Linked DNA regions of Homo sapiens: region 2 is reported to be linked to region 1. The links are microRNA targets in miRTarBase. Many come from high-throughput screens and were not tested one by one. Region 1 holds a microRNA gene; the other region holds the end of a gene's coding sequence.

Evidence for each region. Region 1 holds the annotated microRNA hsa-miR-5007-3p (AUCAUAUGAACCAAACUCUAAU, at 1,941-1,962, shown strand). A microRNA usually pairs through its seed, bases 2 to 8, with sites in the 3' UTR of a target mRNA and lowers its output. Matches are read on the target gene's strand: a 7mer-m8 pairs with bases 2 to 8, a 7mer-A1 pairs with bases 2 to 7 and ends in A, and an 8mer does both.
Region 2: miRTarBase lists DNAJB9 as a target of hsa-miR-5007-3p. Seed matches in the 3' UTR shown: 7mer-m8 at 2,601-2,607.

Annotation. Positions count from the first base shown.
Region 1 is chr13:55,172,569-55,176,981 of GRCh38, forward strand. It overlaps MIR5007 (microRNA 5007), which reads left to right and starts at 1,886; the gene lies at 1,886-1,980. The region is part of intron 4 of LINC02335 (long intergenic non-protein coding RNA 2335); the gene reads left to right.
Region 2 is chr7:108,572,508-108,576,920 of GRCh38, reverse strand. It overlaps DNAJB9 (DnaJ heat shock protein family (Hsp40) member B9), which reads right to left. Exons shown (of 3, transcript NM_012328.3): 3 at 2,071-4,022. The coding sequence ends at 3,568. Among named protein-coding and RNA genes, the nearest start is that of DNAJB9, 4.8 kb to the right of the region's middle.

The DNA.
Region 1 (4,413 bases):
TTATTTTTATAAGGTCTTCCACAAATTTAAAAGCATGAATATTTTGCTTTTTTTAAAAAAAATAAACTTAAATTATTCTGTTTTTGACTTATTGTAATGCCTGAGTATAGTATTGAGAAAAATATTACTTACTTTTTCTTTAATTTATTTGGAATCATTCCAATATTTTATTATAAACATTAGATTTCTACTGCTTATCCTTTGCATGCAAACATACAAAGTCTAGGGGATTTTTTAGCCACTTTTTGCCACTTAACAACAACAAAAACAAAACAAAGAAATCTTAGTGCTTTTCTTTTTTTCATACAATTGTATATAGCTACAATTTTTTAATGTTCTACCACTTAGTAGGTTAAAATAAATTTATAGAAAAATAAATGGGAGATCAAATATTCATACTTTAACATAAGAACTATCAAGATACTAGAAGGCAAGAGTGATCTTATACATAAATAAGAGTTATATTCCACAAATCATAAAGGAAATATTGATATATTTAACAACATTTTAAAGGGGCTACACTTACATCATAAACAAAGTAAATGAAGAAATAAATAATGGGGAAATGGGATTTTTAACTTATAAGACAACTTTGTGATTAATTTTATATTCTAAATGTATAAAAATGCCATACAAATCAATACCAATGGAGTAAAGAAGCTTAAAATATAATAAAGTCAGACCTAAAAAACTATACAAATTGCTTATAAAGATGTAATAATATTTAGAATCACTTGTCAGATACATATGAAGTAAAATATGCAATTTTACACTGAGATTGGATTGGAAAATCTCTATTTTTTGTATTATATAGTTTTGTAAGCTATTGCATGGGAAATAAGATTTCTCATTTAACTAGATAATATAAATTAGAGGAGAACTTTGCAATCATTATTTGTTTTAAATATTACATGTTCTTGCAGATAATAAATAATCACTTAGGAATTTTGCCTACAATTTTGCATCTCAATAGAAAGCTATAAGAACACAGATATTCTTGATGCATTATTGGTAAAAGCAGAAGAGTGGTGGAAAACAATTGTATACCCACATTTAATGCAAACATAATAAATTTATGACTTATCTCATTATGTTATTTCCCAATTGGATTTTTTCATAAGTTTCTTCTGATAAACACAAAGGATACCAGGAATTGACTCTATATTACTGCTGTCCAATAGATCGTTCAATAAGGAAGAAAATCTTGTTTATTTGTGCTTTCCAATATGGTAGCCACAAGCCACATGAAGCTATTGAGTACTTAAAATTGACTATTTCTACTGAGATATAATTTTTTGTTTTAGAGATGGGGGTCTCAAATTCTTGCCTCAATCTCCTGAGTTGCTGAGACTCAGGATTCCTTCATGCCAGCTCAGGAATTAAATTTACCTATTAATCAATATAAAGTAAAAGTGGATAACCACATCGGGCTCAAGAATATCTTATTGGGCAGTGCAGTTTGAGGTAAATGTTGCTTCTTTAGCCAGTGTATTAGTTCATTCTCACATTGCTATAAAAAAATGCCTGAGACTGGGTAATTTATTAAAAAAAAGAGATTTAATTGGCTTATGGTTGTGAAGGTTGTATGTAGGAAGTATGACAGCATCTGCTTGGTTTCTAGGGAGTCCTTAGGAAATTTACAACCATGGTGGGTGGCAAACAAGGAGTCAGCACTTCACATGGCTGAAGCAGAAGGAAGAGAGAGAGGGGAGTGGTGCCACACACTTTTAAAACAACCAGACTTTGTGATAACTGACTCACTATCAGAGAACGGCACTGAGGCAGTGGTGCCTAACCATTTTTGAGAACTCTACCCTCATGATCCAGTCACTTCCCAATGGACACCCCTCTCTAAGACTGGGGATTACAATTTGACATGAGATTTGGTAAACCTTGGTGACTAATTAGAGTCTGGCTGATATGGTTTGACACAGAGCTAAATCATATGAACCAAACTCTAATTAGTCAATAATTTCTGTTAAAAATTATCCCTCAAATATCTTCCAAATCAGCCTTCTCTTTCTTATACTGATGAATGCTTCTTTTAATTAAATTTTTATTTTTTTCACCTGTATTACTGTACCATCTTTCTAAATGAACTCTTGTCATTTAAAACCAACCCTAAATTCATCTCCTGAGATGTCTGTAAAATGTAGATCTTCGTCACTTCTATATTTGCAAACTTTCAGCTCCCCCAAGTTGTTAATATTTTGGCCCCAGATTCTCCCTTTAGCCTCACATGGCTGCCAAATCTTCAAAACTCATTTACCTTCCAGACATAAAGCTTCTTCTAAAATTCTCTTTATAAAACATCATGCATTTTCATGTTTCCAAAGTTTTGCACATTTGTATTCATCTTTCTGGAATGCTTTCCTCAATGTTTTCACTTTTGTTTCTTCATTTATTCTTCAAAGACTAAGCTCACTTGTAACCTGCTGATAATTAACTATCCCCAGTTCTACAAGCATATTTGTTAGGGATGTCTCTTCACTGTTTATATAATATCCAGTCTTACTACCCCAGTGATAACTAATGATTCGACGAATAAATATGGTCAAAACTAAAAGCTCAGTAGCCAAGAACTAACAACGTAGAATAAATATTCTTCAATGTAAAAGGCAGAGTAGGAGAGAATCCCTGAAAATGGCAAGAATTGCTAGACATTAAATAAGACAGTAAATTTGATGGTTTGAGTTATTTTTTTCTTGTGATCGTCTTATTTTCACAGCCTATCAACATTTCTTCTTAGAAAAAAAGTAATGTTAGGATAAAAAATTTTAAGTAGGAGTGATTATAGCTATTGGGGACATAATTAATGAGATACCCCTCTTCTACTAGTCTATCTTTGAGTCATGCCTTTCTACTTATAATAGTAAGCTGACATCAGCTATAATAGGGAAATTATCTTCTCTCCTGGTTCCGCTAGTGTCTGTAGAAAAGATGCAAAATTTCACCTACTATAGACATATCCCAAAGACATACCCAATGCCGCCTACATGTTTCTCTAAAAACCCATCTTTTACTCATTGTCACTACATTTCCAGTCCACCTACCAAGTCTGCATTAACTAATTAAACAAACAAGCACTGTTTGAGAGTCTACAGAATTACAAGAAACCTAAGCATTCACAATGTTTCTAGTTCATCAGGAAGCTCAGATTTTGATCTATCTTTGGTTGTTAATTTTTCTGTCACTCCAATCATATTATTTGTTCTGTTGTAGTGCATCTATTGCAGGTCCCATTGAAACTCAAGTATGGCTTATCACACTGATCTTCAAACCCAATGCATATATCAGTAATCATACAAATAATAATAATGTTGACACATTACATTTATTACATATTTACTATGTGTAATTTACTATTCTGAGCACTCCTTTACGTTATGTGGTTTGGAGATTTATAGTACTCACTAGTAACTTACTCAAGGGATATTGAAAGAGTCATACTGAGTAAATGCTATTAAGTATTCTATGATACCAGAAACAACCTTAGTATTGCAACCTTTCAAATATAAACATATGTGAGTCAATCTGAGCTGTGGGTGGACACACTCTAGTGTAACCCCCAGGAAGTCACCTATTGTATAATACCATACCCTTGAATGTGGGCAAAACTGGAACTTGCATTTAATGGAATATGACAAAACGTGCTGGGGTATCTCTGCAGTGATTAGATTACAATACACTTATAAGACTTCATTTTAATAAATTGTTGTATAGCTCTTCTCTTGCTGACCTTAAAGAACAAAACAGAGAGGTTGTGAAAATTTCTACAGAAAGGGCTTCATGGCAGGGAAGTGCAGGCAGCCTCTTGGACATGAGCATGTACTTGGAATCCTAACCTATGGAAACTGAAAAAATGAATAGGTATTGTTTTAAGTCACTAAGTTTGTGACAATTTGTTGTGTAGAAATAGAAAATTAATGTAAGGGCTATCCTAAAAGGAAAAAGAATTTAACTTTGGGCCTTTTAACATATTCAGTCTCTTTAATAAAAGGTGGCTGGTTTTACTGTTACAAATTCTCAAATGTATATTTTCACAATTTGTAAGTATATTGATAATTATGTATTATACATTTAGACTCTCAATGAATTTTAATCAAACTGAAAATGTTTTCTCACTTCCCTTCAATAATAAATAGTTGTTTATTTGAAAATGTCTTCTACCATGTCTTAATTTACAGTACCATCAAATATATAATTGAAGGGTAAGAAAATTCTTAAATTATACAATATTAACCAACACATCCCATTTAACAGAACATGGCAATAATGTTTATCTCTTTTTGTTTAATTTAAAAAGTGTTTGTGAGAAGATGGCATAATGGAGAGCAATGAAATTACTCAGAAAGTGGTTTCTGTGAGACTTTAGTTTATGTTAACATCTTATTTTTCCCTCAGGTGTCAAAG
Region 2 (4,413 bases), not on the chromosome of region 1:
CTCTCTCCCAAACTTCAGACATATCTCCACCCATTTACTCATCATCTCAAATTTGATATATCTCAGCTGAACTTCTGATTTTTCCTCCTAAATTTCTTTCTGCAGCCTCTCCCATCTTAAAGGCAACTCTGTATTTCCAGTTACTCAGAACATGAAGCTTAGAATCATAGTTTTCTCCTCTGTCTTTCACACCTACATCTAATCCATAAGCAAATCCTGGTAGCTGTACTTGCAGAATACATCTGGAATCCAACCACTTCCTACCACTTCCACTGCTGCCACCCTCGTGCGATGCACAAGCTGCAACAATTTCTCATCCTAGAATACTGAAATAGCCTCCAAACTCTCTCCTTGTTCCACCATTGCCCCTCTGTCTATTCTGAACAAAGCACGTGGAGTGACCCTTTTAAAATGATTTAAAGATCAAGTCATTTATCTGCTCCAAGCTCAGCCACCATATCACATTCCAAAATCAAATCCTTTACAAAGGTTGGCAAGGCCCTAGGTGATCTGTAGGGCTGCTTTCAACCCCTCTTATCTATGAATTCATCTCCTTCTACTCTGGTTTGCTCACTGGCCTCCAGTTATGCGCACTTCTTTGCCATTCCTACAACTTCCCACATATGCTTCCACCTTCAGTACAAACAATTCCCTTCAAGCATCTGCTCAAATTTACCTTCTCAATGAGGCCAACACTGACAATCCTGTCAAAAATTGCAACACATCCTCAACCTGCCTGCCCTCACAATTCTCCTCTCCTGTGCTACATTTTTTTTCCATACTTTATCAGTTTATAATTTATTCATATGGTTATTGCTTGTCTTTTTCCATAAGAATGTAATCACCCCCACCATCCTGCTCACCAGTTACGGTGTATCATAATGAGTAACAGTAAAAAGAACTGCACAATAAATTTAGGTAGCTCCACATTAGGGCAACCTCTGGAGAGAAGTTTGCGAGGGAGTTGAGTAACAAAGTTGAGATATGAGGAAGAATATGAATTTCAAAGGAAAAAGTAGGCCTGCATGGTAGGAAACACATGTACCACACATCTGTTACCTCCCATTGACTTTGGTTGTTAGATGTAAATGTAAACCAAATGTAAGTTCACATTACTTCATCTGTTCTGACACCATCATTAAAGAAATCCTGAAGTAAGCAGGTTAAGACAAGAACTGTCCTTATCTGTTGATGCAATATTCTATTAAAAAAATCTGATACTAGAATCTTAAATTCAATCTCTGAATTACATTGTCAGGGCTAATCATTGGGGCTTCTTTTCCTAGCTATCAGTTTTCCTTAAATGTCTGACATTCTTTGGACATCAGTATGTGTTTATGAAGGATTAGATCAAATTGCACAGATAGCTGAGAAAAGCAGTTTCTTCAGCAGTTATGTGTCTGCATTAGACCTCCTTTTTGAATAGAAGCGATGGTTCTCAGTAAATTGTCAGGCAGTGGCCAATCATAGCTCACTGCAGCCTTCAACTCCTCCCACCTCAGCTTCCAGAGTATCTGGGATTATGGGTGCATGTCATCACACCCGGCTAAATTGTCAGGGTTTTTTAACCAGCAGGTACCCACAGGTGAGTATGTGGTCTGCATGCAGAGAAATTGTTTCCCACCAAGCCAACATAAGGAGGCTTTACTCTGGGAGTGCTGCCATTTCTCACCAGCACCCCCTTGACCTTCAAGTGAAAATTCACTTCACCTTTACTCTGCCTTCACCTCACACCCTAATACCCTCAATGGGTAAGTCTTCCCCCAAATAACCCCATTCTTTCAAGACTTGTTTAGTCCCTTGCCTGAGGAAAAAGTTACTTTTGTTAACAACTGTTTACCTGGAGGGAGTAGCTAAGAGCAGAGCTTTCCAATGCAGTTCTTCAATAAATTAATATGAATGAATTCTGCACCCTCACCCAAATCCAATCCTTAAAGCTTCTCCAGGACATCCTGATTGTGGTTTTTCTGATTTATCTCCCAAGCCACACTCTTCTGCTTTATATATTACTGGAATGTCTCAAAACTTGATTTTTTTTAAAATAGGCTACAGATAATCCTCAGCCCAAAATTCAAGGTATAGCTAATTTTATTATTATCAAACAAAACTAGTAGATATAACTTCCAGGAAATAAGTTACATAAATATAACAGAATAAATTCATTTTCTTAAGTTTCAAATTAAAGATGATTAAGAAATACAGCTTTATGTAAAGTTTCTGCTTTTTCTCAACCACGCCTAAAGAGGAAAGAACTGGCAGCAGGAACACTTGCTCCTAGGAAACAAATACAACAAAATTATAATTAAAAAGATCTTCAAGCTATCAAAATTTGTGAGAGAAGGATGGTAAGAATGCAGTAGAAATTACCAAATGACAAACAAAATCCTATCAGTTTTCAGGTTGGTCAAAAGTAACTTCATGAATATAGCCTGTGATCAGCATATGTCCCATAGCTTATATGCCCTCTATACCTCCAGAGTTGCATAATAAACTTTTAACAATAAAACAACAACGAATATCAGGTTGTAAATATTTATATTTCTCTCACATACAATGTTGTATGAGACACTTGTTTTAATATGTATCCATAGGATTAATACTCATATGGAGTATAATGTGGAAAAGTGCAGAACTAAAGAAATAAGTCTATCCGAAAACAAAAGCACACATTTCTCAGGATTTAAAAATATTGCACATAGTAAGGTTGCACAGAAATTACTGGCTGGTTTTACAAACAGAATGAGGTATCAGTCAATCTCTAGATAAAGATGAGAGAGAGGATAAACTACACACACACAAACACATAAATCCATACTAAGACCTAAGAGTGCCAACAACTAAGAAAGAAATATGAAAAAGCTATGTAAGTAGCTATGATTTCAACACTACAAAATCATTTTTAGGCTGGAACCAAACACATAACAATCTCTTGGCAATATTTCGTTAAGTTTTCAACTTTTTTCCAGCCTAAATGACTATGGGCAATAAAACCATTTCCTTTACCCCAGTTCTACTGTAGAAAGGCACAGCGCTGTGGTAAATATCAAACCATTCCTTTCTCAACCTTTCAGTAGCAATTAACCAAGATACTGTTCTCCTTTACTGAATGACTCAATTATACAGTTTCATGTACACTCTGCAACGCAAGTCACAGATGTCATAGAACATGCAACTTTGAATTAGTAAAGGTTTCACTGCAAAAATCATTAGGTTCACACAATTTAAATCTACAATTAACTTTTAAAGTTTAATCAGGTAAACTCAATATTTTCTTGGTAATAATACTGGTGATATTAGTGAGCCCAAGGGCAGGTAGAGAAAAAGCACTAGGCAAAATTACGTGTTTTTTAAAGAAACTTTCCTAATCAGGGAAATAATTAGCATTTTGTCTACTCGTTGAATGTTGAATTTGTCAAAAAAAAAAAACCCTTAAATATATTTAATAGCTATATCAAATTGTTTAAAGTGAAATCATGCACTTGTCAAAATAGTTCACAGAAAATTGTTTAGCATCAAAGATAATGAGGAAGAGTCAACCAGTTGGATTTAGTGAGAATAGAATAAGAACTACTGTCCTGAACAGTCAGTGTATGTAGTAACCATATTTCCTCTTCGTTGAGTGACAGTCCTGCAGTGCTTGCTAGATCCATGAAATCTATTTTCAGTCTGTACTGTATGCTGATTGGTAGAGTCAAAACCACTAAAAGAAAACATTTTCTCCATATCTTCAAACATGTCATCAAATAATCCACCTCCAAAAGAAAATTCTTGGAAATGATGCCTTTGTCTACTGGAACCACCATCCTGGCGTGTCTGGAAATGATTTTCAAAACGCTTCTTGGATCCAGTGTTTTGGTTTTGACCAAAAAAGCCAAAGTCTTTAAATAAGTCATCAAAATTGAAGTTAAATGACTGCTCAAAAGAACTTCCACTACCTCTTTGTCCTTTACCACTAGTAAAAGCACTGTGTCCAAGTGTATCATACTCTTTTCGTCTATTAGCATCTGAGAGTGTTTCATATGCTGAAAGTGACAAAAATATTTTTAGTAACTGAAGGTAAAATATTCAAAATTACATATATTCAAATCTCTTCAAGCAAGTGAACTGAATACTATTATTTTAGGGAAGAATTTCGCATCAGAAATAAAAGCAAAACACTACAAATATAAGCATCAAGTTAATCAAAATTATAAAATAAAGCAGAAACTGTCTTATTAACTGCTGAGTTATCAGCAGTTGGCACAATGCCATCTGCAATACTCAATAAAGTTATTAAATGTTACCATTACTACAAATAAACATGTGGGCAACAATCAGAGTTCTTTAATCTTCATATTATTCGTGTGAAATCATTAATTGTATTAAAAAATTAAACCATCAACTATAACCAATTAATAGGAATTAAGATTTTGC